Linked DNA regions of Homo sapiens: region 1 is reported to be linked to region 2. The links are microRNA targets in miRTarBase. Many come from high-throughput screens and were not tested one by one. Region 2 holds a microRNA gene; the other region holds the end of a gene's coding sequence.
Evidence for each region. The annotated mature microRNA hsa-miR-323a-5p reads AGGUGGUCCGUGGCGCGUUCGC and lies in region 2 at 6,355-6,376, opposite strand. An mRNA with a match to its seed (bases 2 to 7 or 8) in the 3' UTR can be bound and repressed. Matches are read on the target gene's strand: a 7mer-m8 pairs with bases 2 to 8, a 7mer-A1 pairs with bases 2 to 7 and ends in A, and an 8mer does both.

Region 1 (14,997 bases), not on the chromosome of region 2:
GTTCTGGGATGACAGGTGTGCTTTTTTGCATAAAGAAAAAAGCCTTGGCTAGGCACAGTGGCTCACAGACCTGTCATTCCCAGCACTTTAGGATGCCAAAGTGGGAAGATTGCCTGAGGCTAGGTGTTCGAGACCAACCTGAGCAACATAAGGAGACTCCATCTCTAGAAAAATTTTTTAAATTAACTGGGCATGTTGGTGTGCACCTCTAGTCCCTACTAAGACTAGAGGCTAAGGCAAGAGGATCACTTGAGCCCAAGAATTTGAGGTTGCAGTAAATTCTGATTGTACTCCAATCAGATTGTACTACTGTACTCCAGCCTGGGCAACTGAGCTAGACTGTCTAAAAAAAAAAAAAAAAAAAAAAAAGAAACAAAGAAAAAAGGCAGCGTATTATGTACTCCTTTAGTCACACTCCACTCACCCCTCACAAAGTTTTTCTTTGTGTTCACTGCTATACCACTCTTAATTTGGTTTGTATCCTTCAGAGAGAGCTCTCTGTGTGTTTGCGTGTGTGTGTAGTTGCTTTTGTTTATTTGCCTAAATTTGAGCCCCCCGTTTTCTGATCTCGAGGCAGGCCTCACCCCTTCACGTAGATCACAGTTTTAACTGTCTCAAGTTTCAGCTTGAGTCACATTCCAGTCCTGGCTCCCTGAGACCGAGTGTGCTGCTTGGACTTGAGCGTGTCCCGAGTCTCCTGGTCCTCTCCGGTGGATCCCTGCTCTAAATGGCTGACCTCTTCCACTGTCTAATGGGTCTTCTGATTTCATTCTCGAAAGGGAGCCCTCATTTCAAGTCCTGGGGTACCCTGTGCGCAAACTCCATCTATCTGGAGTGGTGAGTAGATGAGAAGAGAATCCCTGAGATTCTAGGTTTCTTTGGGGTGAGTGGGCAAAGTCTGAGAGGAAGGGGCTTCAGCAGGCTGCTTGAGTGATCTGAGGGGGCGGAGGCAATTGTAGGGTGTTGTCAGCAGTGGCAGCCTTCGTGGAGGTTGGAGATGCCTGGGAAACCATAGAGGATACCTCACTGGTACACAAGTGTTCCTGGAGCCTGTGCCCGAGGGAGGCACCCTGGGAGATGGCATGAGTGAGACAGCCTTTGTCCCCCAAAATTCTGTGTCCAGGTATATAGGCTGGAGGCAGTAAATCTTTAAAAACCAGGGGCCCCCGTGGCGGTTCTTTGCGGAGCAGAGGCTCTGGACCTGTGGTTTCAGACGATCTCACGAACCCAAAGCTTGGACAGATTTCTCAGAAACCTGTGAGGCTTCGACCAAAATGTCTCTACTTTCTGTGTTGTTATGTACGTATTGAAGTTCTCTGAAGACTTTATTTAAATAAAGATCCTGCCACTTTAAAAAAAATTAGAGGTGTAAAAATCGTGGATTTAACAGTTGGAAAAGGCCACCTGTGGTCAGGTTAGCTGAGCTGATGAATGTGAATGTGAGGTAGTCCAGGAAGACTCTAGAACCTTCTGAGGACCTTGCCAGAGGAGGATGGGGAGAGTGTGCAGGCCAGGAGAGGAGGTGGGCCACAATGACCCACTGACAAGTAATGGAAAGAGGAGCCTCTCTGTCTTGCTGGTGTTTTTCTTTTTTTTATTTTGGAGATGGAGTCTCGCTCTGTCGCCCAGGCTGGAGTGCAGTGGCGTGATCTTGGCTCACTGCAAGCTCCGCCTCCTCCCAGGTTCACACCATTCTTCTGCCTCAGCCTCCCAAGGAGCTGGGACTACAGGCGCCCACCACCACACCTGGCTAATTTTTTGTATTTTTAGTAGAGACGGGGTTTCACTGTGTTAGCCAGGATGGTCTCGATCTCCTGACCTCGTGATCTGCCCGCCTCAACCTCCCAAAATGCTGGGATTACAGGCGTGAGCCACTGCACCTGGCCTGTTTTTCTTTTTCTTTTTTTTTTTTGGAGATGGAGTTTTGCTCTTGTCGCCCAGGCTGGAGTGCAGTGGTGCAATCTTGGCTCACTGCAACCTCCGCCTCCCAAGTTCAAGCGATTCTCCTTCCTCAGCCTCCTGAGTAGCTGGGATTACAGGCGTGCGCCACCACGCCTGGCTAATTTTTTTGTATTATTAGTAGAGATGGCGTCTCACCCTATTGGCCAGGCTAGTCTCAAACTCCTGACCTCGGGTGATCCGCCCACCTCGGCCTCCCAAAGTGCTGGGATTACAGGCATGAGCCACTGCACCTGGCCGGTCCTTCTCTTTATGATCTCGTGGTTACGGTGGGCTGATCACTCACTCCTTCCTGGAGACAACTTTCTTCCCTTGGCTTTTCAGGCAGCTGCTCGCCTGGTGTTCCTCTTCCCTCACTAACTGTTCCTTCTCAGTTTCTCTTGCCGCTCACTCTCAGCTCCCAGAGTTGGAACACGTCGTATCATTGTCTGCCTTTCCCTTTCTAGAATGTAAGGGCCTGCAGGTTAGGGTGTTTGCGTCCTGCACTATAATATCTGCGGTAACCAGAACAGTGCCTGGCACAGCGTAGGCCCGGCTTATGTGTTTGGTGAATGAGTACGTGCTTAAGTATCCGCAGCCGTGGGTCAGTGTCGGTACTCGCTCCCTGGGAGATCTCATCCAGGTTCACAGCTTTCAATGACATGTGTGTGCTCATAATGCCCACCTTGGCTGCTCCTTCCTGGTTCCATCCTCTTTTCCAGTTGCCCAGGTGGCGTCTCTACATGGGTGTCTAAAAGATCTCAAACATTGTGCCACCGCACTCCAGCCTGGCGACAGAGCGAGACTCCATCTCAAAAAAAAAAAAAAATCTCAAACTCGCCACATTGAAACTGAACCCCCAGTCTCACCAATGCACCCTACCCCTAGACTCCACAATCTTCCCTTTCCCAGTGAACAGGCAGCCCCAGGCTTCAGTTTGCTGTGACCACACCCACACAGTCATCCTCTTCTTTCTCCAGCCCAGCATCTGTCCAGCAGCCGATCCTCCAAAACAAGTTCAGAGCTCACACTGCTGTCACCACATCCACTGCTGCTACCCTAGTCAGGGCCGGCTCTCGCCTGGTTCCTGTAACAAACCTAAGCCAGGTCTCCTGGCTGCTGAGCTTTGCCCGCTATGCTCTGCTCTCCTGTAGCAGCCAGAGTGTCCCTGCTGAGAACACAAGTCAGATCCAGTCACTCCTCTACTCATGGCCTTTCTGTGCTGCTCCTGTTGCACTCCAGATAAAAGCCAGAGCCTTCATGGTGACTAGTGAGCTCCCCACAGGCTCCTGACCTCTCCCCCCACATCCCGCTCCCCGCACAGGCACTGGCCTTGCTGTTCCTGGGGAAGCCAGCGTGCTCCACCAGGGCATCCACATTTGCTCCTCCCTCTGCTCAAAATGCTGTTCCCTCCCTGTCTGCCTCACTGGCTCCTCACTCCCTCTGTGTCTGTGGTCCCCTGTCAGCTTTCTGCTATCCTATTATCCTATCTCCTTTCCCTGGTGTACTTTGCTACTTTGCATCTGTCCATATATAACATACTGCATTTTTTATTTGTTTATCCTATTTATTAGCTCTGATAAATAGAATGTGAAGTCCCAGAAGGCCACTTAGGGAGCTCCATTCACCGCTGTACCCCTAGCAATCCAAACGGCATTGGGCATATAGTACTCAATAAATTATTGTCAAATTAATGAACAAATGGGGTTCAGTGTTCCTTCAGGGAGCCTATAGTTTATCAGGGAGACAAACTGTGTTCTGGGAACACAGAATAGCATTTGGTAGGTGATAAAAATGGGGTGGCAGCCACTAAGTCATTTTAAATTCCAGCACATCGCACAGCAAAATTGTACCTGTTTTCTGTGCCACATTTTAAATAATCGTGTCTCTAAAAACAGGGTAGAAAAGGAACACACACAAATAAATCCTTCCCAATATAGACAGTGCAGTAGTTGAAATCACCATCTTCTGTTTTTGCCTTTCAATGTAATGTAACTTTTTTTTTTTTTGAGACAGTCTCACTCTATTGCCCAGGCTGGAGTGCAGTGGCGTGATCTTGGCTCACTGCAACCTCCACCTCCCAGGTTCACGCGACTCTCCCGCCTCAGCCTCCTGAGTAGCTGGGATTAGAGGGGTGCACCACTATGCCTGCCTAATTTCTTTGTATTTTAGTAAAGGGGTTCTCCATGTTAGCCAGGCTGGTCTCAAACTCCTGACCTCAAGTGATCTGCTCACCCTGGCCTCCCAAAGTGCTGGGATTACAGGCATGAGCCATCATGCCCAGCCCTAATGTAACGTAACCTTTGCACACGTCCCTGTTGCGTGCTCGTTTTTTATGGCTGCACGCAGCCACGGCAGTCCTCAGTCCTCTTTCCTCTGCCTCGAGGCCCAGCTTTGCCCATTATGAGTGCCTTCTCCATACTGGTAAGGTGGACACCTGGTCTTGGTGATGTAGGTGTTGACACTCAGGAGATAAAGAGCCTGGTGGAAGTTCGCCAGGGGTCTTTTCTGTCCCCCACGTAGTCCCTCATGAGCTCCTTGGTGGGCACAGCTATGCCTTAGACTGCTTCTGGGTGTTCCCACCCCATCACCTCTGCCCCACTCAGGCAGAACCCGTTAGGCTAGGATGCCCAGTAAGTTTGAGATAAAATGGAGTTGGCTGCAGGTAGGAGTTACAGGAAGAGGCACGAGCACCAGGCGTCCCTGTGCCAAAATACACACAGGAGGAAGGCTGCCTGGCTTCAGCTGGCTTGTCCCTAGGGAGGCTGTGCGCCTCATTTTCTAGCTGGCAGCAGTCCTCGATCACCCAGGAGTGGAGCTCCCTGCCATCCTTGGGCTTCCCCTCATGCCAGGCACTGGGCTGTGGACATAATGAAAGCCCTGGAAATGTGGGTACAGTTTGCGGAGCTTCCAGGGGGCATCCTCGTGGTGGGGTGTCTGGGGGGCTCTGACTGCTCTCTGCTCTCATCCCTGCCCAGCTCCCCCTCCGGGGCTCCGCGGGACACTGGATCTCCAGGTTATCCGCGTGCGGATGGAGGAGCCCCCAGCGGTCAGCCTCCTGCAAGACTGGTCCAGGCACCCCCAGGGCACCAAGCGTGTGGGAGCAGGTGACACCTCAGACTGGCCCACAGTTCTGTCAGAATCCAGCACCACTGTGGCAGGGAAGCCGGAAAAAGGGAATGGAGTGTAAATTCTTGCTTTCCTGGGGAGGGAGGGAGGGATGAGGCAGCGTCCCCCAGTGGCTTATAACTCAGAGCTGCCTGGCTCACCCACCTGGTGGAGAGAGTAGAAACAGGTGCCAGGGCAGGAGGGGGCTGGGGCAGCATCCACTGTTATTTCGGGGCACTGGAAAGTGTCTGTTCCTGGCCAGGCCTGAGGTCGGCGAGGGTGGCTGAGGCTGTTGTGCAGTAGGGCACTGGGCCTGTGGAGAACACCTACCCCAGTCCTTCGCTGACCCCCACCTCTGTTTGTCCCCCATGACCTCCTCCCACCCTCCCCCTGCTCCCCACCATTCTCCCTTGGCACAGTGCCTTACACAAGAGTGGTCATAAGGGGGTTTGAACTGAGTCCCACTACCTCGGGGGACACCTCTCCTCCCCACTTGTTCAGGCTTCTAAACCAGGAGGCCTCCATTACCTCTTCCTGTCCCACCCCTGCAGAGGCCTGAAGCTGGGCCTGGGCACCCCATTCACTCCCGTTCTCATTTACATCTGTTTTCCTGTTGTATATATCACCTTTGTTGACAATAAATTATTTTTTTTTATTAAGAGTTCCGTCTGGGCCATCATTGGGGGAGAGGGTTTGCTAGCAGGATACCTGGCCACCTAGAGCAACCCTGAGGGGCAGGAGGGTTGGAAGATGGTCCTGGGGGGAGCCAGGGAGCCACCTCTCCTGAAGGTGGGACAGCACCAGGGCAGGCCTCTGTGGAGCCCAGGAACGAGGGCTGACTTGTGCTATCAGTCACCTGTGGGCGTCTCACCCCCTCCCTTCCTCTCTGCTCTGGAAAGGGGGTCAGAAACAATTTTCTTTAACATTGTACCTTCTGGCTCACCTGGTAGGCCTCTGCCCAAAAGAGGTCACTGTAGAAGCCCAGGGGTGCTCACAACCAGGGAGCTGGGAATTAGCCTGAGCTTGCTTGCTTGCTTGCTTGCTTTTTCTTTTCTTCTTTTTTTTTTTTTTTTTTTTTTTTTGAGACAGAGTTTCATTCTTGCTGCCCAGGCTGGAGTGCAGTGGCGCGATCTCGGCTCACTGCAACCTCCACCTCCTGGGTTCAAGTGATTCTCCTGCCTCAGCCTCCCTAGTAGCTGGGATTACAGGCACCCACCACCATGCCCATGCCCAGCTAATTTTTTGTATTTTTAGTAGAGACAGAGTTTCACTATGATGGTCAGGCTGGCCTCGAACTCCTGACCTCGGGCGACCCACCTGCCTCAGCCTCCCAAAGTGCTGGGATTACAGGCGTGAGCCACCACGCCCGGCTTATCCTGAGCTTTCTAAAGTGAAATGGCGGTAACCAGCTTGCAGGTAGAAAGATGCCTCTCCTCCCTTTCCGTATGATGGTGAGGGGCACAGGGGTCCTAAACTCAGCCCCGCCTTTTCCAGCCCTACAGGCCTGCACCCTCAGCTGTCCACCTTCATCCCCCCCAACCCTTGGCTTAATTAAACCCAAACACTTGCTGGTTTCCCCTATTCCCTGGATCATGAGGAGGCCACTTTTGGTCTCTTCACCGGATTCCTTACCTTCCTAAACTAAACCAACAGGGGCCAGATCTGTGCGTGGTTTTCCCTTTGGTGAGATGGAGCACACAGGCAGCCCCTTCTCAAACCCCAGCTGTACTGTCCTGTTTAGAGCCCATGGCAGGTGTGGTAAGCAGGACTGTATACCTCTGCACATGCTGACAAATGTGCACATAGGAGAAGTGGGGGCACAGGTGGGACTTGGAGGGCAGCTATTCCTGTAGGACGCTGACATTGGCACATTTTTTTTTTTTTTTTTGAGTTGGAGTCTTGCTCTGTCACCCAGGCTGCGATCTTGGCTCACTGCAACCTCTGCTTCCCAGGTTCAAGCGATTCTCCTGCCTCAGCCTCCCGAGTAGCTGGGATTACAGGCGTGCACCACCATGCCTGGCTAATTTTTGTATTTTTTGGTAGAGATGGGGTTTTCGTCATGTTGGCCAGGCTGGTCTCAAACTCCTGACCTCAGGTGATCCACCCACCTCGACCTCGCAAAGTGCTGGGATTACAGGCGTGAGCCACTGTGCCCGGCCAACACTGCCAGATTTTGAGACTAACCAGGAAGTTCATCTCGGGCAGGCAGGGTCTGGGCCTGGGCAGCGTGTGCTGTGTGCTCACCTGATGGGGTGTCACCATGTGCCAAGCCAGGTATGAGGGATCTCACGACTTGGTGGGCTCCTGGGACATGATCCCTTCTCCCCATCTGATAAGCTCAGGAGGAGCCTAGAAATATACAGGGTCTTTGTCTAGGGGACATTAAAAGACAGGTGTGGTGGACAGAAGGCAGTGGCCAAGGCTTCAGGATGCCTTGTATCTAGTGTGGCTCCCCCACTGCATGATGGCAGGCAGGCAGGCCGGCCACGGAACTCCCATGTCTCAAACACCATTATCCACAGATTGGCAAAACTTGTATCCTACCTGATAGGAGGGAATAAATAATGCTAAAAATCTGGTTCTGCAAGCACAAATACTGCAAATGGTTTTCTCTCATCCTTTCAATCCTGTGACTTGTGTTTACATTTATGCCAATGTGCTTTTAAAACAACATGGCTGTGTTGCTGGGTGTTTACACTTGAGAAAACGTATGTAAAAGTTTGTTGTAAAATTGTGAAGCCAAATGCCCCTTTGCTGTTCTATGATTAATGGCTTGGCCTTCTAGACTGTGAGCTCCTGGGCAGGGACCAGGTTGTATTGACTTTGTTTTCCAAGTGTCCTGCCTGGGGCCTGGCACATAGTAGGTGCTCAATAAATGTTTCTCGAGTGCCCTCTGAGTGTGTATTCCTGTGTGACATTTTTCTAGTGCATGTTGGTCCCTGGAGTGTGGTTCTCAGCACAGGGTGGTTGCTACAGTGACTGTGCAGGGTGGGAACTTCATCCCCACATTGTGGCCAATAGGGGTCTCCCCAGCCTCAGCCAGGGCCCTGGGGACTATGTGAGTGTGTGTGGCCAGCAGCTGTGTGTGGCACCTCTGGGCTTCCAGGAAAGAGTTGGAGAAAGTGGGGCTGAGGATATGACTCCAGCCCAGGCTGGAAGGACCTTACTGACGGATTGCCCAGGGCTTTCCTACTCCACACCGGCTTGGAGTCCGTGACGCTGGTCCTGCATCCTGGTGCAACACCAGGGAAGCTCTGCACGAATGTCGGTGACTCTCAGGGCTGGTGGTGGCACCTTCATCCATGTGGTGCTGTGGCCCAACCATGTGTTTGGTTGAAGAAGTTGGGGAAGAGGGTGCCGCTGCCCCTGACTGCTGAGCCACACACCCATTTCCTGACTTCCCAGACCTCCTTGGCTCTCTGAAGCCAGCCACCTCCTGCCCTCCCAGCTGCCTTCCATGGGATCCAGGTGTGGGAGATCTTTTTGGATACCTAACAAGGAAAAACTTTCTACATTCCCAGTACTTCTGACACCAATGTTAGTGGGGAGGGGGGCGCCCACATCAATTCTCCGACTCTCCAGACACCAGCCAGCTGTTCTAAAATTCAGTTCTGACACTCACTACCCAGAGTTAGCACGGTCCCTGCAGGTGAAGGGCTCAGTCCCAGCAGACTGCCCCTGCTTCAGATACCAGTTCTAGGTCCCAGCTTGTCACCTGTACTTCTGACCAGCCCAAATTTGGAAGTTCCCACAACCCCCTCCTCAGTTTTGATAATTTGCTGTAATGGCTCACAAAAATCACAGAAACAGGCCGGGCGCGGTGACTTACGCCTGTAATCCCAGCACTGTGGGAGGCCGAGGCGGGTGGATCAACTGAGATCAGGAGTTCGAGACCAGCCTGGCCAACATGGCAAAACCCCGTCTCTACTGAAAATACAACAATTAGCTGGGCGTGGTTGCGGGTACCTGTAATCCCAGCTACTCTAGAAGCTGAGGCAGGAGAATCACTTCAAGTCAGGAGGTGGAAGTTGCAGTGAGCAGAGATCACGCCATTGCCCTCCAACCTGGGTGACAGAATGAGACCCTGTCAAAAAAAAAAAAAAATTAGGGAAACATTTACTTACATTTACTTGTTTATAAAGGATGTTACATAGGATATAAACAAACAGGTGATGAGGTACTGAGGGCGAGGTTCAGAAGGGTTCCAAGCACAGGAGCTTCTGTCCTAGTGGAGTTGGAGTGAGCCACCCTCCTGGCATGTGGATGGGGTGCTGTCCCTGACCTGGAACCTCCCAAACCCCATTATTTAGGGTTTTTATAGAGGCTTCATTAGGCACGATTGATTAAATCATTGGCCACTGGTGATTGGCTCAATCTCCAGCCCCTCTTCCCTCCCCAAGGTCTTGGGTAGGGATGAAAGTTGCAATCCCCTAATCACGTGGTTGGTTTCTCTGGCCACCAGCCCCATCCTCCAAGAGTCATCTCATTAGCGTGAACTCAGGTGTGGTGAAAAGAGACTCATTATGAATAACAAAAGATGCTCCTCTCTCCCCATCACTCAGGAAATTCCAAGAGTTTTAGTTCTGGACCAGAAACCCGGATGAAGACCAGATATATATGTCTCTTTTTTTTCTTTTTGAGTCGTAATCTTGCTCTGTCGCCCACGCTGGAGTGCAATGGCATGATCTTTGGCTCACTGCAAGCTCCACCTCCTGGGTTCCAGTGATTCTCCTGCTTCAGCTTCCTGAGTAGCTGGGATTACAGGCACCTACCACCACGCCCAGCTAATTTTTGTATTTTTAGTAGAGACGGGGGTGGGGGGGTTTCACCATATTGGCCAGGCTGTTCTCTTGGCCAGACTGGTCTCGAACTCCTGACCTCGTGATAACTCCTGCCTCGGCCTCCCATAGTTCTGGGATTACAGGCGTGAGCCACCTGCGCCCAGGTGTCTTTTTTTTTTTTTTTTTTTTTTTTTTTTTTTTGAGACAGGGTCTCGCTCTTGAGGCCCAGGCTGGATTGCAGTGGCACAATCTCGGCTCACTGCAACCTCCACCTCCAGGGTTCAAGCAATTCTCCCGCCTCAGCCTCCCAAGTAGCTGGGATTACAGGTGCTTGCCACCACCATGCCCAGCTAATTTTTTGTATTTTTAGTAGAGATGGGGTTTCACTGTGTTGCCAAGGCTGGTCTTGAATTCCTGACCTCAGGTGATCCACCCGCCTCGGCCTCCCAAAGTGCTGGGATTACAAGTGTGAGCCACCAAGCCTGGCCGATATATATGTCTTTTTATATCACAATGCTGGTAATCCTCTCTTTCTTGGGGACAAAGCCAGTCTGAGACAAGGGAACAGTCACCCCTGCCCTCCTTGAAGAGAAACTGGAGCATGTGGGAGTGTGAATGGGAATGGGGGACACTGGCTGGGCCCCTGCCGCACCCCAGTGGTGGCACTGGTCTGGTCCAGGCCTTGAGGCTTTCTAGCAGATGCTCCTGCAATCTGAGCTTCCTGTTTCTCTGCAGAAAATGCGGCAGTCACCCCCACCTCCACCCCACACACAGCTGGGCTGCTGTGTGGCTCAAATGAGACTCTGCATTTGGGGCCCTTTGTAAACTGTAAAATCCTGCACACCCCTAAGGTGTGGTAGAAGATGGGGGCTGGGATGGGAGAGGGTCTCTAATGGGCTTGCAGACCCTCTCTGCCATCGGAGTCTCTTGGGAGGGGGGCACCCTACTGAGGCTGCTTGCAGGTGCAGGGACAGGGAAGGGACTGCAACACCTCCTGGGGTGTCTGCCTTCCTACCTCCCTGGAGCCAGGTGCCTCAGCCCAGAGCCATCATGCCACCAAATTTGCTCAGTCCCTTTCTCCCCTAGAGAGAACACCCTCATTCTCAGGACAAATGTACCAGCGTCCAGGAAGGAAGAGGAGCCAGCCTTTGGGTTCCCAACACCAATGTCAATGGCTTGGATCTCCTCCAGCCCCACATCTGGTGGGGGTGGGCAGAGGAAGCAGGAAAAGCAGGTGTGTGATGGGAGATGGGGTAACCACCCTGTGTTGCTTAGATCACACAAGCATCAGTGAAGGACCCCATGGGCAGGCACTGTTAGAAACTATGGGGTACAGACAGGACACCTACCCTGGCTTCATCACAGATCACCTCATATTGTGCCCATTATACAGGTGAGGAAACTGAGGTACAGTGAGATGAATGCAGTGACTTGCCTGCCATTCCAGAGCTAGTAAAGGAACAGCTCTGGCCAGGCATGGTGGCTCACGCCTGTAATCCCAGCATCTTGGGAGGCCAAGGGGAGGCGGATCACCTGAGGTCAGGAGTTCAAGACCAGCCTGGCCAACATGGTGAAACCCCATCTCTACTAAAAATACAAAACTTAGCTGGGCATGGTGGCAGGCGCCTGTAATGCCAGCTTGGGAGGCTGAGGCAGGAGAATCACCTGAACCCAAGAGGCAGAGGTTGCAGTGAGTGGAGATGGTGCCACTGCACTCCAGCCTGGGCGAAAGAGCAAGACTCCATCTAAAAAGAAAAGAAAAGGAAAAAGAAAATAAGAAAAAAGAAACAAAAGGGAAAAGGGGGTCTTACTCTGTTGCCCAGGCTAGAGTGCAGTAGTGCAATCATAGCTCACTGCAACCTCAACCTCCTGGGTTCAAGTGATCCTCCCACCTCAGCCTCCCAAGTAGCTGGGACTACAGTTGTGCCACCATGCCTAGCTAACAGGGGTCTCCCTATGTTGCCCAGGCTGGTCTCAAACTCCTGGACTCAAGGGATGCCCCCCACCAAATTTGGCCTCCCAAAGTGCTGGGATTACAGGCGTGAGCCATCACACCTGGCTTTTATTTTATTTATTTATTAATATTTAGAGACAGGGTCTCACTCTGTTGCCCAGGCTGGAGTGCAGTGGTGTGATCATAGCTCACTGCAGCCTCGACCTCCCAGGCTCAGGTATAATCCTCCTACCTCAGCCTCCTGAGTACCTGGGACTACTGGCAAATTTTTTGTATTTTTTGTAGAGACGGGGGTTTGCCATGTTGCCCAGACTGCTCTCGAACTCTTTAGCTCAAGCAATTCATTCACCCACCTCAGCCTCTCAAAGTGCAGAGATTATAGGCATGAGTCACCATGCCGGGTCAGGCCTTAATTTTTTTAAGAAAAGGGCTAGGTGCCATGGCTCACGCCTGTAATCCCAGCACTTTGGGAGGCCGAGGTGGGCAGATCATGAGGTCAGGAGTTTGAGACCAGCCTGGCCAATATGATTAAACCCCGTCTCTACTAAAAATACAAAAATTGGCCAGGCGTGGTGGCGCACGCCTGTGGTCCCAGCTACTCAGGAGGCTGAGGCAGAAGAATCTCTTGAATCCTGGAGGTGGAGGTTGCAGTGAGCTAAGATTGCACCACTGCACTCCAGCCTGGAGACAGAGGGAGACTCCATCTCAAAAAAATAAATATATAAATACGTAAATAAATAAATTTAAAATTTGAAATGTTTTTAAATTTAAAATTTTTGACACATTTTATTCAGATAGTAGTCTGATCACATATGGTCTAAGAACAGTCAAATCATAAATCAAATATAAATCAAATGTTAAAGATGGATCTTCAAACATTGTAGCCAGTGATGCCACACTCACCTATGATCTCTGTGACATAAAACCACATCCACACCCCAGTGACCTCTGAAACATTCAACACAGCTTCCTTGACTGTGAGCTGTTTGAAGCTACCAGTTTGAGCGCTATTGACTTTTTTTTCCAGGCCCTGAATAACTCTAGGGATCTCAGCAGGGTTTGGAGGAACCAACTCCACCTCGGCGTAGTACTGAAATGTGGCCAATCAAGGCTTCAACTGAGTCACAGCAGCGTTCACCAGTACCAGGGCCTTCTCTGGCGAGGTGGTGGACAAATCAGGTCATGGTTCTAGGATGGAAAGTCTGTCGCCCCGAAGGGCCCGCTGAATGCCAACACCTCCCGGCAGTTTTACTCTCTGTGTGTGTTTTGTTTTCAGTTGTTCAGGCGGGAAAGCCTGCAATCGTCTTTAACTCCCCTCTTTCATAACCCCAACCCATCCGAAAGCCTGTTGGCTGTACCTTTCAAATATGTCCCAAATCTGATCACTTCTCACTACTTCCACTGCTGCTGCCTGGCCCCAAGCCACTGGCATCTCTCCCTTGAATTGTTGTAAAAGCCTCCTTGCTAGTGCCCCGGGTCTGCTTCTGTCATGCCCTTTCACTCTGTTCTCAGCCCAGCAGCCAGTTAGATCATGTTACTCCGGCGGCAACTCATCCCACTCCCAGGGAAAACCACAACGGTAGCCCACCAGGCCTGGTTCCCGTCGCCACACACCTACCTCCTCACTCACTCTGCTCCAGGCTCATTGGCCCCTTGCTCTTCAAACAGGCCAGGTATGCTCCTCTGGCTGGGTTCCTCTTCCCCTAGATGTCTGCAGAGCTCATGCCTTCACCTCCTTCAAGTCTTTTTTTTTTCTTAGCCTCCCAAAGTGCTGCGATTACAGGTGTGAGTCACCACGCCCGGTCTCCTTCAAGATTTTACTCAAGTGTCACCTTCTCAGTGAGGGCTCATGAACCCCCTCAGTACTGTAGCTTGTCTTCCACCCTCTCACCCCTGTAATCCTGGCTTAACTGGCTCTGTTTTTTTCTGATATCACTTAATACTGACTCTTTTGTTTGTTGTATGTCTTCCTCAAAATGAAAAGTAAGCTCCCCAAGGGCAGAGTTGTTTTTTTTTTGTTTTGTTTTGTTTTGTTTTGAGACAGAGTTTCTCTCTTGTTGCCCAAGCTGGAGTGCAGTGGCGTGGTGATCTCGGCTCACTGCAACCTCTGCCTCCTGGTTTCAAGCGATTCTCCCGACTCCACCTCCCAAGTAGCTGGGATTACAGACGCCCACCACCGTGCCTGGCTAATTTTTTGTGTGCTTTTTTTAGTAGAGACGGGGTTCCACCATGTTGGCCAGGCTGGTCTCGAACTCCTGACCTCACATGATCCCCTCACCTTGGTCTCCCAAAGTGCTGGGATTACAGGCATGAGCCACCGCGCCTGGCAGGCAGAGATCTTTATCTTGTTCACTGATCTACCTAAAAGCCTAAAACAATGCCTTGCACATAGTAGGTGCTCAGTAGGGATTTGCTGAATGAATAAATGAATTTGCAGATTTAGAGAGGGGGTAAATGTGTGGCAATAATTCATCTTTGAGGAGAACTAGGAGGGTTCATGGATTTGAGTAGGTGAGATTTGAACTGGATCTTGAAGTGGTTCTGGAAGCTGAGGTGGATGATGGGCAATCATCTATCAGCTTGACCAAAGGCATGGAAGTGAGAGAGACTGGCAGCGGGGTAGGAGTTAGGGAGAAGTGTGATCAGTGATAGTTGGAGAGGTTATTGTAAGGCAATGTGAGGCCAGATTGAGCAAAGTTTTAAATGCAGGCTAAAGGCTTTTCCTACAGCCAGGACCAGCTACATAATTTGTGGGGCACAGTGCAAAATGGAAATGCATGGCCCCCTTGGTCAAAAATTTCAAGATAATGGGCCGGGCGTGGTGGCTCACGCCTGTAATCCCAGCACTTTGGGAGGCCGAGGCAGGTGGATCACTTGAGGTTGGGAGTTCTAGACCAAACTGGCCAACATGGTGAAACCCTGTCTTTACTAAAAACACAAAAAATTAGCCGGGTGTGGTGGTGGGCACCTATAATCCCAGCTATTCAGGAGGCTGAGGCATGAGAATCACTTGAACCTGGGAGGTGGAGGTTGCAGTGAGCTGAGATCGCACCACTGCACTCCAGCCTGGGAGATAGAGCGAGATTCAGTCTTAAAAAAAAAAATTTCAAGATGGTGACAGCAGAGCATTAATCCAAGCTCAGGGTCCACCTGAGCACAGGGCTCTGTGTGACTGCATGGGGTCGTGGGCCCAAGAAGCCAGCCCTGCCTATAACC
Region 2 (14,997 bases):
GGCCCATGTGCCTTCCCTGAAGTTGCACCCAAACCAAGACGTCTTCAAGGCAGAATAGGATACTGAAAAAGAAGTGCACCGCGAATGTTTCGTCACAAATAAAGCGAAAAAAACACGGGCAACTTCTCATTAAGTACCGCACGTCAGCACCGTTGACAACACTGCTTCTCCGCGGCTGGTATCACTCCTGCGGGCTTCCTGAGAGCACATGGGTCCTGATGCGCACCGGGCAACCGGTGACAAAGATATGGCCGTGCATACAACCCCCTCAAGACCTGGGAGACATCTAACAGGTCTGCCCCCTCTGCACAGGTGGCATTGTGTCCTGGAGCTGCTTGTGAGCACGATGTGTTCAATTTCTCAATAACAAAAAGTCTCCTCCAGTAGCACAGAATATGACAATGGCACAGAAACAGTGATTTTGCATCCTAAAAGTCCTCCTGAGGATACATGAGGAGGGACCAGGAGAGTCACAATAACTCCCCAGATAAGATGGATGAGATCTACCACCCACCCTTTAGGGACAAACAGCAAAGTGTCTGCCCTGATGGAGCCTCTGAGCCAAGGGAGTCGTCATAGAATGGGTAGCGCAAGGGATTTTTTAACATTTGCCTCAAACAGATGGAATGACCAGGGGTCCTGGCACAGCGTCACCACTGTCGATCAGCCTGAGCCGGAGAAGAGCCCCCGGGGCAGACCGGAAGCTGCGGGTTAGGGAGGGATGAATGAGCAATGAATAAAACCCAAGTTCTCAGGTGGTCCACGTGGACAACTGACTTGGTGGTGGCAAATCCTCACCGGTTCCTGCATTCACACCTCACCACAACCCCCTCCCGGGTGGAGTGGGCCTCCCCGCCCCTTGCCTTGGGTTCGGCCGTGTAATTGTTCTGGTCAATGATCTGTGGGTAGAAATATAGCAGTTCCCAGCCTTGGCCTTAAGGAGTTTCTGCGTTTCTAATTACTTTCTTGTGCCTCTGCCGTAGCCATGGGAGCATACCAAGGCCGGGGTGAGAGCTGTGGGTCCCAACTTCAGCCCTCAGGGCAGGCCTTCTCTCCACAAGCCATCCTAGGTATGGGAGGGAGACTGAGGATGAACGGACCAAGACACACACCCGAAATAGAATGTCTGCTCTCAGACAAGATGTCCACTCCCATACCTCTCCATGGACCTGACGCCAACAGCCCTCCCCTGAAGCGCGTGTCACAGCCGGGACACATCTTCCGCAGTCTGACACTGAGGGCATCCAGGGCATCTGGGGCCTCGTAAGGCAAGCAGAGCTGAACAACAGACAGAGATGAGCAACGGCAACAAAGCCCTTTCCCCAAGCATGGACTGAACGCTGCCCACGAAGCGGCTGGATTCTGAGTGGTCCCAACACAGGAAGGGCTCATCTCAATCACGCTGCCAGCTCCTCAGTCCCCCATCCACGACTCACCAGGAGTGCTGCTGACACCAGTGGCCCTGCCGGAATCTAGCTTCATGTCCAGGAAGTCCTCCTATGGAAAAGAGATGGGCCACGTAGCATTCATCAAACACATGGCAAGCTTTGTCAGACAGCCTCTCTTCATGTAGCACAGAATAAAGTGGCCCTCACTACCACAGCTGTCCCAACGCCTGCCCTGTCCTGCACACACACAACACTCCTCAAACCCTTCCGAGGATAAACCACACCCCTGTACCAGGTCACACACACACCTCCTGCAGTCAGCATGTGGTGTGGGGTGGGACTTTCCCTGATGGGGCACTGAAGCCCAGGCCTCTGCAATCCTGGCATTGTCTGTGGCCAGACTATCAGCCCTCCTGGGCAGGATTTGAAACCAAAAGAGAGATTATTCACTGATGATTGCTTATATTGATTTTAACGAGGTAGGAGGAGGGGGCCCCGAAGGGAAACCCCTCCTAAAATCCTGCAGAGTCCCACGGGCCCCACGTCCTCCCACATCTTCTCCGAAGTTGCCATGTGCACCAAGATGTCATCCCACAGATGGACCGGGCGCTGGTGGATAGTCAAACGGGTGACCTACATCGTAAATGAAGTGCACGTCACCGGTCTACCATCCCCTCAGCTACCCTGGAGAGCAGATGGCACCATCGTCCCTTCAATGACGTTGCTAGCGTGTCCAGAAGGCCATCCAAGCAAGATCTCACACTGAAGAGGCGCCACCCACCGTGAATCAACAAATAGACAAACACCACAATGAGCAACCTCCTTCAACCACAGAAGCACAGGCCCTTCTCCAAACTCAGCTTCCCCTCCTAGGGGCCCTCCATGGCTGGGGCCTGAGAGCCACACCCCCACGACGCATGGCACGCTGTCAGCCTCGCTTGCGCCTACCGAGAGTGGAGCCGGCAACGTCCCTCCCTGAAGGCTGCATCAGGAACAGGAAGTGCCTCCAGGGTGGGATTTGATACTAAAAAAGAGGTTTCCCGTGTATGTTTCATCATAAATAAAGAGAAGACAACACGGACAACCTCTCCTTCGAGTATCGAAGATTAGCACTGATCAAAAAACAAACAAAAAAAATCAAAACAGAACTGCCGAATCTTCGCCGATGTTGGTGTCACCTCCAGGAAGATTCCCCGAATCTACATGGCACTGGGTAGACCAGACGTCAGATGGCTTCTATTTGCGTGTCCCAGGTTGCTTTTGGGAAGTCAGCCAAAAGCTCTTCAAGCCTTCACAATGAAAAGAGGTTGCCCGGGAAACATTTTCCGCCAATACAGAGAACACTTTAGGTACAACCTCTTTCCAGGTATTGGAGCTTTCCTGACGGTGGAACCAGGGTTTCCTTGTGGAAGTCCAGGCCACGGGAAGTGCCCCTAGTCATAATGGTTTGCATCCCAAAGTCAGTGCGTCAAGAGAGCTCATGAGTAAATCTCGAATTCTGTGGTCAAGAAGCAGGTGGCTGGGTCTGCAGTTAGCCGGTGCCCAGGCCCCTGTGTGGCACTGGCCATGGGTCCAAGCAGCCTTCCAGGCAAGGTGTGATTCCAAAAACAGATACATGGCACCGAGGAAGCTGTAAGCAAAGTGAGTGCCTGCTACACACGGCTAGGGAGGGAGGGTCGGGGAAGCCAGGAGCACCGCCAGGCCACCTTCCTCCAGGTCAAATCCCACTTAATGCCTTCTGCTGCCTTCAATCCAATTCAGCAGAATCAAGAAATAAAAACGAATCTCATTTCCTGATGTGAGCTCCCCAAATGTTTTAGCCAATTCTGGGCCGGATTTTCTGTTTGCTATAAAACTCCTTTGACAATAATTGTTTTCATGGTGGGGGGAGTACTGTTATCTCCAGACTCTTTTGCATCTCAACAGAGAGTTAGATCAATCCTGACAGGGCTGGGGAGAATCAGGGGTCAGAAAACTTCAGGTTTCCTCTTACAAAGTTGTAAAATTGTGCCCTCTTTTCCCCCGAAGGTGGACCCCGGAGCAGAGGTCTGAGAAGAAAATCCCAGGGCCAGGCTGCGGCTCTGCACCCTTGCCACCTGTCCTTTGACCCCTCCGTAGCCAGCAGAGCACCCAATCTACATGGACCCAGCAGCCGCCTACCCTGGATACCCCGGAGGCAACAGCATACTGCCTGCTGTCACATGGCCTTGACACACTCTCTCTGCCCTCTCTTTATGAGGGCTCTTTTCGGCTGGAAGGAACGGTGTTTGGGTATCAGCTAATAGGAAGGATTGGTGGCGGAGGTCATTGGTGCTACCTCATATGTTCTCTCTGGTTATAAAAAGCAGGGTTGACATGGAAATACCTGGCCCTTCTCCAGAACCTGAGGCCCTCCTCCCTCACAGTCCCATCCCCAAATGCCACAGATGAGCCGAGGACCCACAGTCACAGCTAAGTGCCATCAAAACAAATGCAGCACCAGCAAAACCTACTTCTGTGCCTTGGCTTTAGAGCTGGCAGGGAGCCTTTTCCTTCCCCAGAGGCTGGCATCACCTCCAGGAAGTCCTCCTGGAAAGGATCGGGCACCAAGCATTACTGCCAGACAGGACGCTTAGAACAGGGGAAGCACCCATCTCGGCCCACTCACCCTGGCCTGGGCCTGACAACTGTCTTATCCGGAAGCCTTCCAAACTGGTGTTTGATACTGAAGAGTGGTCCACAGAAATGATTTATATAAAAGAAACAGATATGCCAAAGGAAACCTCTCCTTGAGCACCCCAAAGAAGGACCATCTGCAGAAACACAACCCTGAGGGTAGGTCAGATGTGCTGGTCAGTGGAGCAGGTGTGTTCCTGGGGAGGTACATGCCCCGTGGTGGGCCATCCACTCCCTTCCCCTGGATCAGGGCTGGTGACAATGCCCTCCCTTCAAGCTGGCATGACATCAAGGATTCCTCCAGATTTAAAGGAAGTCAACTCCACAATTCCTGTGAGAAATAAACAGGTCTCAACCTGGGCCAATTCCAGGGCCCCCAAGGTCTCCTCTTGACCTCAGAATCAGCTTTTCTTCCCTAAGGTGTCATTATATCCAGGACATCCTTTCAGAATAAACTGCAGGCTAGGGGCAGGCGTGCAGGACACCTGCACTATCTGTCCAGGGCATGCTGGCATTCCCCTGCTGTGGGCTGGGCTCATTCAAGCCCATCACTGAGTGTGGCAAGGACGAGGCATCCCCCTACAGCAGGGTCAGATGCCGAAAGAGCCTGAATTACACACACGATCCGTTGGGAGCACAACGAAGGCAACCACAGACAACTCACCTGCATGTTCCGTGACACTGTCGTGGTGACACTGTCTTCCCCCAGGCTGCCATCACATTGAAAAGTCCTCCTAAGAAGGGATAAGACATTGAGGGTTAGCGCAATCGGTGGCAAAATTCAGAAACATGGGGCACGCTTAGTGATCAGCCATTTGCTCGTGTCTCCTTATTTATGTCCACAGCACCCCTTCCCTGAAGCTGAGGTCTGGACCAGAAGGCCTCCAAGATGGGATTTGATACTGGAAAAGAGGTTAACCAGGTGTGTTTCGTCCTCAATAAAGAAACAGAAACCCAGAAAACCTCTCTTCAGGTACCACCAAGTAACACTGACAAGAACACCACTGATTCCTTCCCCAAACTTGACATTCAGTCCTGGAAGTCCTGTTAAATACGGATTGGACACTGGGGTTAGTAGAACAGATGACATCAGTCAAAATAATACAGCACAGGCTTCGTGGTTAACCATAGATTTCTGTCCAGTGGACTGGAGCTGAGAGTAACGCCCTTCCCTGAAGCTGAGGTCTGGACCAGAAGGCCTCCAAGATGGGATTTGATACTGGAAAAGAGGTTAACCAGGTGTGTTTCGTCCTCATTAAAGAAACAGAAACCCAGAAAACCTCTCTTCAGGTACCACTGATTAACACTGACAAGAACACCACTGATTCTTCCCCAGACTTGACATTCAGTGCTGGAAGTCCTGTTAAATATGGAATTGCACACTGAGCGTTAGTTAGTTGATTTGCCGGAAGAAGCCAAGAGTTGGATGCATGCTGCTTGCCAACCATCTATCCAAGTACCCCAGTGGAGCAGACCCCACATCACGTCTGGAAGTTGACATCACAGCCAGAGGTGGTGATGCCATAAAAAGGCTGGTCACAGCAGCTATCGCGTTTAGGGTTAACCTCCAGGGCCATCTTTTCTCAGTTACTCAAGAGAGGCACAGATGCCCCAAAGCAAGGCTGACTCCACCAAAGGTCCTGCTAAGGACCCAGTGGAGACTGAGGTGTGACGGGCCAGGCGACCTTGGTTGTAAATTAAAGTGCATACACTCAGGTCAGCTGATCACTGGAGGACTTTGGGATGGTATAGACAGCATGCCCCTTCCCTTGAACTTGGATGCCTCCACATCTAGGAAGCCCTCCAAGGAAAGAGATCGGAGTGAAAATCAGTCCAACTCAGCCACATTTGGCATACATGTCGCAAACGCCTCGCAGATGCTCTCTTCAGAGTCTAACAGAGTGCAGCTGGCCCCAGTTTACTGTCTCTTTCCCAAAAAGTTGACACCTCTTCCAGGAAGTTCTCCAAGGGGGCATTAGATACTGAGGGTTAGTGGACCAGGTCACAAACGGCACAAATAAAGCGTGTGCTCTCTGGTCAACCATCTCATGTATCCAGGCACGTGCTGACACCACGCTCCTTGTCCGCAAGTTAACCCTGCTGCCAAGCCAGAGCAGTGTGCTGAGAAGAAGGCTGCCACACGTGAGTTATCGTCACACACAAGACAAACACATCACAAACCCCGCTGGGTCACACTGAGCGCAGACCTAGTGGCCCCCACCCCCGCAGTTGATGTTAGCTCCAGGAAAGCTTGCAAGGCGGGATTAGATACTGCAAAGAGGTCGACCGTGTAATGTGCGCCATAAATAAAGCGAACGCGCCACGGACCACCTCTCTCCAAGTACCAAGCAGCAGCCGTACTGACACCAGGACAGTGGCTCTTCCGCAAAGCTGATATCACCTCCTGGAAGTCTTCCAAGGCGAGATGTGATATTGAGAAGAAGTAGACCATGTGTCCTACGTCACAAATAAAGCGTACACACCATGGTCAACCGCATCTTCAAATACCAGGAAGTGACGCTGACCCCTGGCTCTCTTCCTTTCACCTGCTATCACCTCCAGAAAGCCTCACAATGCGCATCATGAACTACCAGCCACCGGCAATGTGGCAATGACCACAAACCCACATCCAATGCCACTACCACCTCCAGGATGCCCTGTAAGGGTGGGACCGGTACTGAGTTCTTGGCTGGTGGACCAAATGGCCAATGTAATAAATAAAGGACTGGGTCTGCAGCCAACCACCCGGTGACCTGCACTGCACCCTGGCTACCACTCAGGCCTGGCTCTCAAGTCGGCATGGCCTCCGGGAAGCCCCAGGGCTGGCTGATACTGAGAATGAGTGGACCATGCTACATCTGTCATTCAACAATGCATATGCTTTATGCTCTACCATCTCTCCAAGTACTGTGGAATGGCGCTGAAGCCAGATCAGTGTGTCTCCCACGAAGGTGACTTTGCCTCTCTCTGGGAAGCCCTCTATGACTGAATTTGATATTGAGAAGATGTGGACCATATTACATACGACACAGAGATAGCGCATGTTCTATGGTCAACCATCTTTTCAGGTACCTTGGAGAGGGCTGAGGTCAGAGCCGGTGTCTCTTTCCTCTCACTAGCATCACCTCCAGGAAGCCCTCTGAGGCCTGATGTAGTATTGAGAAGAGGCCACCATGCAATGTCTGCCGCAGATGCAGTGGACGCAGCACAAAGGAGCCCCTCAAGAATGGAGATGATGCTGGAACTAGTGCTATGACTGACACTCGTTCCTGCCTACAGAAAGCCCCCCGAGGTGCACGCTGTTATAGGAAGGTGGACGAAGTAACATGCGTTGTAAGTAAAACATATGAAGCATGGCCAACTTCTACTAAGTACCCCGAGGCAGTACTTGTACCAGAACTGGTGCTTTGTCTCCTAAGCTTAACATAACCTCCCTGGAGACTTTCCAGGCTGAATGGGATACTTCAAAAGAAGTAGACCATGTTACATACGTCATGGGGAAAAGACATGCAGTGTGGCTGAACCCTTTTCAGGTACCGTGAGGTCAGTGAAGAGGCCAGAACCAGTGCTCTGTCCCTGAGGCTGGCAGCTTCTTCAGCAAGTTCTCCAAGCAAGGGTTCTGGGATGGAGATAGGGAAGAAGTGGGCCATGGAGGCACTTCCTCTGTAAACATACACGATGGGGTCGAGCAGCTCTTCATGAGGATCAGTGCTGAGTCCAGAGCTGGGACATCTTCCCCCGAGATGGCTAGACTTGAGATGGAAAAAAGATAGACTGTACACGCATCAGCAAAGACAAAAACGAGTCAGTGCGTCTTCAAGTACCTGGAGTGGCATCATCTCCTGGACCCATATCTGCTCCTACATGGGCGTACTGTCCTGAAGTCATCTGAGGAGGGCTCTGAGGATGAGAGGTGACCTGTTTCACATCCCTCGTTCATGAACATTTGCGGCACCAGCCACCGTTTCTTCAATTACTCCAGAGGGATGTGCCAACGTGGGCAGTAGGACACCTTCCTGGAGGTCATCCTTGTCCTGAGGAAGTCACTGGAGGCTGTGTTTGGCACTGAGGAGAAGACCGCATCACAAGCATTGACAGAGAAAGCACACATCTAAGAGTCTACCATTCCACCAAGTGCCATGGCATGGCGGATGCCGAGACCCGTGGCTCTCCTCTAACTCCAGGCTTTCTCCAGGGAGGTTTGGATGGCTGGGCTGGATACCAAGAAGCGGTTTACCATCCCACATACATATTCAAAATGTATGTGGGACGGTAAACCATTTCTTCAAGTACCGCACGATGGTGGTGGTGGTGGCTGGAAGAAGGCTCATGTCCACGAAGTTGCCTGAGGGCGCTTCTTCTAGGCTGCATTTGACGCTGAGAAGAAGCAGGTCACGGTGTCTACTGAATAAGCGTAGCGTAGTCAACCACGTCATTGAGCACCATGGAATGGCACTGATTCCGGGAAGAATCAAGGTCTCCTCCCCAGGGATGGCGCGATTTCCCAAGGCAGAACTTGATTTAAGAGGAGCGAGATTATGCCATTTTGCATCATGCAGAAAAACACATGCCATACAGAAAATCATCTCTTCGGGTGTCATGGAGAAGTGGTGGTGGGTCCAACCGTTCCTCCCCGAAGACAGCGTTGTTTCCAGGAGCCTCGGGGATGGATTTGATACTGAGGGTTAGTGGACCGTGTTACATACGTCACAGATAAAGCGTACGCTATACGGTCTACTATCTCTCCAAGTACCACACAGAGATGCCGAGGACAAAGGCTCAGGACACATCCAGAAAGCCCTCCAAGGCCTTGAGCTGGGTGGAACCAGAAGGGAGGTTGAGCACAGCACATGCATCATGCGACAAGCACACACAGGCCAGGAGTCTCGTCTTCATGGTCGGGGGTTGACATGAATGCTCGAAGCAGTGGCTCATCCCCAAAACTGGCAACTCCTCCAGGAAGCCCTTCGAGGCCGAAAGTCCCACTGAGAAGAAGTGGACGATGATATGGATTTCATCACTCCATAAATACTGATTAAGTGCCTGCTGTGTGCCAGGCGCACTGTGCTGGGTCTGAAGGAGTGGGTAGATGGGAGGGAGGACATGGCACATGGCTAACAGAGCTGGTTAGGGGAGTGGGGAGAAAATCAGAAATACAAAATGGCCCACGTGCAACCAAAGAACATCCATCTAGTTACACTAACCAGGCCAAGGAAACAGTACTGGGCACCTGAGGCCCAGATCTTACCTATTAGTGAGCTCTAGTCTTGGGCATTAAAAAAAAAAAAAAAGTGCCCTAAGGCCATATCTGCCTCAATACCAAGGGCATTTCCAGGAGGTCCTCTTAGGTTGGATTAGATTCTGAGCAGTAACCACCATGCCATCTTCATGAACAAAGCAGGAGTTGTTTTGGTCAACCACCTCCCTAAGGACAGAACCACTGTCTCATTCCCAGACTTGGCACTGCCTCCGGAAAACCCTGAGACTGAATGTAAGATTGATCAGAGGTGGACATTGGTATAAACAGAAAACTTCAACACAGGAAAGCAACTCTTCAATGCCACACAGCGGAATGAAGGATGGACTGGTGGGTCCCCCTGAAGGTAGTATTGGCTCCACGAAGCCCTCCAAAGCTGGCAGGCTACTGGGAAGTGGTAGCCCATCTCACACAAATCCCTCCTTTCGCACAGGCCACATGGCAAATCATCTCTTCCAGAACCACGGCTGAGGCTGGAACCGGTGTCTTGAGCCCAAGTTGCATCACTTCCAGAAAACTCCCCAGAGAGTGCATTTAGTGCCCAGAAGAGCCAGGCCTTGTTGCACAAGTCAGACATCAACCATGAGCCACAGAAATTGCCGTGGAGCAGTGCTGAAGCTAAACCACGTGTTCTCTTCCCTGAAGTTGGCAACACCTCCAGGAAGCCCTCCGAGGATGGATTGGATACTGAGAGTTAGTGGACCATGTTACATAGGTCAGAAATCATAACGCCTACGTTCCATAGTCTACCATCTCTTCAGGAACCACGGAATGGTGCTGACCCCAGAACCAGGGCCTTGCCCCTGAAGTTGGCGTCACTTCCAGAAAGCTTTCTGAGGCTGGATTTGGCATTGGAAGCAGGCACATGGTGAACATAAACAACCCCTCCTCCAATGTGGGGCAGTGGCATTGATGGGGGAAGGGGTGCCTCTACCCTAAGTGGTAATTCCTCCAGGAAGGCCATGTCAACTTGGAAAGACTGCGACAAGGCAAAATGTACAATACTGACCATGCTTTGGCCATTATGTGGTCAACTATCTCTTCATCAAGATAAAGGGCAGTGTTTTGTTCTGCATGGCAAATGGGACACTCCAAGAGCACAGTTCATCATATAAAAGGGGACCCTCAACCTCTAGGTAAAAACTTCCCTAGCTCACCCAAGTTCCGATGGTCCTCGCCATGCTCTAGACCACCTTTGGAGACTCAAACCACAGAGCTGAGTGGGCAGTGCGTTCCTCCAGCTCCTGATTAACCTCTCCACCTCCTTCAGGAGGTCTTCCTTGATTTTCTCCATCCCCTTTCATGGCACAACTATCCCATGTGAATGGAATGCAAAGCAATGATTTGTTAGCCTCCAGGGAAAGGACAAGGGCAGAACCCTCAGCAGCCCTGCAGGACAGCTCGGTTGTCCTCTAAAGTCCTGAACCCCAGTGTAGACGGGGCCCTGCAACTCAGTTGTTGAAGTCCTAACTCCTTAGGAAGTCATTCAAGGCATCATGCTCCCCTGCTCCCTCCAAGTGTGAGCTAGTCTAGTCTAAGAGATTACCCTCCATACCCCGTGCATTGTCCACATGCCTTTGCTGGCACTACTCCTCCACCCAGACCCCGTGTCTGCTTACATCTCTCTGAAGCCCAACCAAATGGCAGTTCTTCCACGAGCCCGACCCCACCTCAGCCAACTCAGGCCTTTGCATCCCTGACCCTCCACAGCACCCTGCCTGCACCTCTCCTCCAGCCCACTCACATTTTCCATGTGGTCACTCGTAGAAATAAACTTGTGTTTACTGAACATCTGTGAGGTGCTGGAGCTAGACCAGTAAATAAGACACAGTCTCTGCCTTCCTGCAGCTGCTAGCGTTGTGGGGAAAACCAACATTAAAGTAGTTATTGCAGAGAATTGGTTTCAAAATGTGAGGAGGCCAAAGTGTTGTGAAGGAGCAGAGAGCATTTAACAAGAGGCTCTCGCCAATCAGGAAAACTTCTCAGAAGTTTAGATTAGAAGATAAAGGATGAGGGGACTAAGCCAAGAAGAGAGAGGACAAGAGTGGACACTGTAGGGTAAAAGCAGAGGACCAGATGGAGCATGGACTGGATGGAGCATGGGTCAGATGAACATGGTCGGGGTGGACAGTGGACTGGATGGAGTATGGACTGGATGCAGTATGAACTGGATGGAGTAGTGGTCGAGGTGGGGCGTGGATTGGATGGAGCGTGGTCTGTGTGGGGCATGAACTGGATGGAACATGGACTGGATGGGGTGTTGACTTGGGGGAGTGTGAACTACATGGGGTGTGGTCTGGATGGAGTAGTGGTCTGGATGGGGTGTGGACTGGATGCAGTGTGACTGGATGGGGTGTGGTCTGGGTGAGGTGTGGTCTGGATGGGGTATGGTCTGGATGGGGCGTGGATGGTCTGGGTGAGGTGTGGTCTGGATGGGGTATGGTCTGTATGGGGCGTGGACTGGATACAGTGTGGTCTGGATGGGGTGTGGACTGGATGGGGTGTGGACTGGATGGGGTGTGGTCTGGGTGAGGTGTGGTCTGGATGGGGTGTGGACTGGATGCAACGTGGACTGAATGGGGTGTGGTCTGGATGGAGTGTAGACTAGAAGGGGTGTGTACTGGATGGGGTGTGTACTGGATGGGGTGTGGTCTGGATGGGGTGTGGACTGGATGGGGTGTGTACTGGACAGGGTGTGGACTGGACGGGGTGTGGACTGGATGGGGTGTAGACAGGATGGAGTGTGGACTGGATGGAGTAGTGATCTTGATGGGGTGTGGACTGGATGGAGTGTGGACTGGATGGAGATTGGTCTGGGTGAGGTGTGGACTAGATAGATGGACTGAGGTCTGGATGCAGTGAGGACTGGATGGAGTAGTGGTCTGGATGGTGTGTGGTCTGGATGGGGCATGGACTAGATGGTGTGTGGTCTGGATGGGGCATGGACTAGATGGTGTGTGGTCTGGATGGGGTGTGGACTGGATGGGGTGTGGTCTGGACAGGGAATGGACTGGATGCAGTGTGGACTGGATGGGGTGTGGTCTGGATGGGGCATGGACTGTGTGCAGTGTGGACTGGATGGGGTGTGGTCTAGATGGGGTGTGGACTGGATGGAGTGTGGCCTGGATGGGGTGTGGACTAGATGGGGTGTGGTCTAGATGGGGTGTGGTCTAGATGGGGTGTGGACTGGATGGGGTGTGGACTGGATGGGGCGTAGACTGGATTGAGTATGAACTGGATGGAGTGTGGTCTGGATGGAGCATTGCAACCGAAAGAGTATCCATGTGAATTGAGCGTGGGGAGCCAGAAATGTGCCAGAAGTGAGTCTGAGGATCTGGGTGGCACCAGATCATTCAGGACCTTAAAACAAAGGTAAAATTCCGACTTCTCTTCAGGCTAAGGGGAAGCCATTATTAGCTGATAAAGGACATCGCGAGCTTCCTATTTTTACAAGATTTCTCTGGCTGATGTGAAATCTCTGGCTGATGTTGCTGGGAGTAGGAGCAGGAAGAAAGAGTACAGAACCCCAAAGAGAGGATGGTAGGAGTCATGGAGACAGGAAAGCGGCCATGTTTCCGAATATTTAGGAAGAAGAGCACAAGAGACTTGGCAACAGCCCAGATGTGGACAAGGCATGGTGGGTCATGAGAAAACATGGGATGTCCCTGCGGGTGTCTGGCCTGGGAGCTGGCCGAGGGTGGGGCCGCTCTTGGAGCTGGGGGTCACTAGATGAGGACCACGTGCTGGCGGGGCACACTTAGTTTTAAGTGTGCTGAAGTTGAAGTGCCACCAAGAAATCCGAGTGGAGATTCTGAGTTGCCAGTTGGTGGAGGCCCCTGATGATCTGTACCTAGCTCTCTGGGTGGAGTGGTGGGGTTGGGAGCCACAAAGAAGTGAGATACAGAGAAGCCGCCAAGAAGATGGCAGGTAGGTGAGGGGAGCTAAGGCGGATTCTTGAGGTATCTAAACATAAAGGGACTAGAACATAAGAGCCAAGGGGGAGGCTCCAGTCGGGGGGCGGGTGGGGAACTCACTCAGGTCCCCCCTTGGTATGGGAACTCCTCTGGGGCAGGAAAGGGCTGTGCTGGCCTCAGCTTTGTACCCCTAGTTCCCAGCACAGGCCGTGCATGCCACAGCATGGTGAGGAAGGAAGGAGTACAAGAGATAGACCCCAAAAGCATCCATGTCCTCCTGGAGAAATTGGCCTGGGTCCCCACTAGCCTCTTGGGTATCTAGAGAGGTGGGTGGACCCACCTTCTCACCCAGCCTCCCAACACACCAAACTTGGGCCTGGAAGCTCCTGCTGACCACAGATGGCTGGCAACCCTTCTCACTCCCCAGACCCCAGTCACTGTTCCACTCCCTCATCCATCCTTTCTTGCAAAGGTGCACAGATTCATCCACTCCTGCACACACCCCTCTCCCTGAAGAACCCACTCCTCCGCAGAGTCATCCGCTCCTCAGCTACGCATCCTCCCATTGGCTCGCTCAGGTACTCTCTCGGATACTCAACCATCGATGCATTTTCTAGCATGCCTTGCGCAGAGGCTGAGACTGACTCAGTGCTCCTGCCTTCCAGGGGCTCAGAGGCTGGATAAGGGAAAAACAGATACTCAACCCACATGACGTTGATCAGTTAATTCAGAGTGCATGAAGTGGTAGGATTCAAGGTCTACACGATCTATAGTCCAGAAACAGTAAGTAGCCCCACCTACTGCGGGGGGGCAGACCACAGAGGCAGAGAGAGGCCATTTGTGCCCCCCAAAGCACATGGCACAGGACTGGGGGGGATGGTGAGTAGAGAAGGCAGGGATAAAACTCAACACCTTCCTTAGCGTTTGGGAGGGCGTAACAGTGGGAGGAAAGGGAGGAAGCAGATGAATATGAAACTTAATTATTCCACAAAGGGCAAAGTCAGAGAATACTATTTCATTTGTTACCATAGAGAAATAATAGATGTAAGCGTAGTTTTTCAAAAATTGAAATGTAAGCACTAACAGACATAGAAGCTGGTTATGTACTTTCCAAATCACAGAGAAAATTAAAATTTAAAAAAAATGTAGTCTCTGTGAGATAACAAAAGATAGCAGGGAAAAAAGGGTGAAAAAAATAAAACAAGCATTAAGTACATTTTTGTTTTTAAGCGCAAACATGACAAATAAGACACAAAACGTAAATGGGTTACACATCCTTTCCAAAAAGAATGCTCAGTTTGGGTCAAAAGACTCCAACTGAAACTATATGTTTTCTATCTGAGACACAATTTAAATAAATTAACTCAAGAAAATTCAAAGTTGAGGGATGGCACAGATAAATAGGATGGCCTCAATTTCCATGCACTGGAATCCCAGGCAGCCCACACAATCATGCACTGACATCCTCCAAACCACGGAATGCAGACAGAAGCTGACTGCCAGCAAGCAGTCAATGGCACCCCCAGTTTTGCCTACATAGCCATTTTTTTTCAGTTTGCTTGTGCAATTTTAAATATTTCTTTGCAGAGGCTTTCAAAGGGTATTCTCAGGGGCATTTGGGGTCCCCCATAGCATTTTAAGGAGGGTGCCCAGCACCAACAGCTTGGGGTCACAGCACAGCCCTGAAACAAGGCAGCCCTGACTTGATCTATTTTACTTATGGGGCTTCTGGGTAATATTTGGTCTGAATAAAGGGTTTGGCTGCCTTTGAAAGCAAGTATTT

Region 1: the mRNA of SPINDOC is a reported target of hsa-miR-323a-5p. The part of its 3' UTR that is shown has no 7-base or 8-base seed match.

The regions. Positions count from the first base shown.
Region 1 is chr11:63,822,012-63,837,008 of GRCh38, forward strand. SPINDOC (spindlin interactor and repressor of chromatin binding) reads left to right here. Exons shown (of 6, transcript NM_138471.3): 6 at 4,917-5,705. The coding sequence ends at 5,128. It also overlaps the pseudogene ATP5MGP1. Among named protein-coding and RNA genes, the nearest start is that of MARK2, 9.6 kb to the right of the region's middle. RefSeq lists a silencer at 9,310-9,527 and an enhancer at 10,336-11,155.
Region 2 is chr14:101,017,126-101,032,122 of GRCh38, reverse strand. MIR323A (microRNA 323a) reads right to left here and starts at 6,391; the gene lies at 6,306-6,391. It overlaps LOC124903407 (mucin-2-like), which reads right to left. Exons shown (of 5, transcript XM_047432049.1): 5 at 1-12,470. The coding sequence ends at 11,319. MIR379 (microRNA 379) reads right to left here and starts at 10,057; the gene lies at 9,991-10,057. It overlaps MIR411 (microRNA 411), which reads right to left and starts at 8,798; the gene lies at 8,703-8,798. It also overlaps MIR299, MIR380, MIR1197, MIR758, MIR329-1 and MIR329-2, and 3 more genes.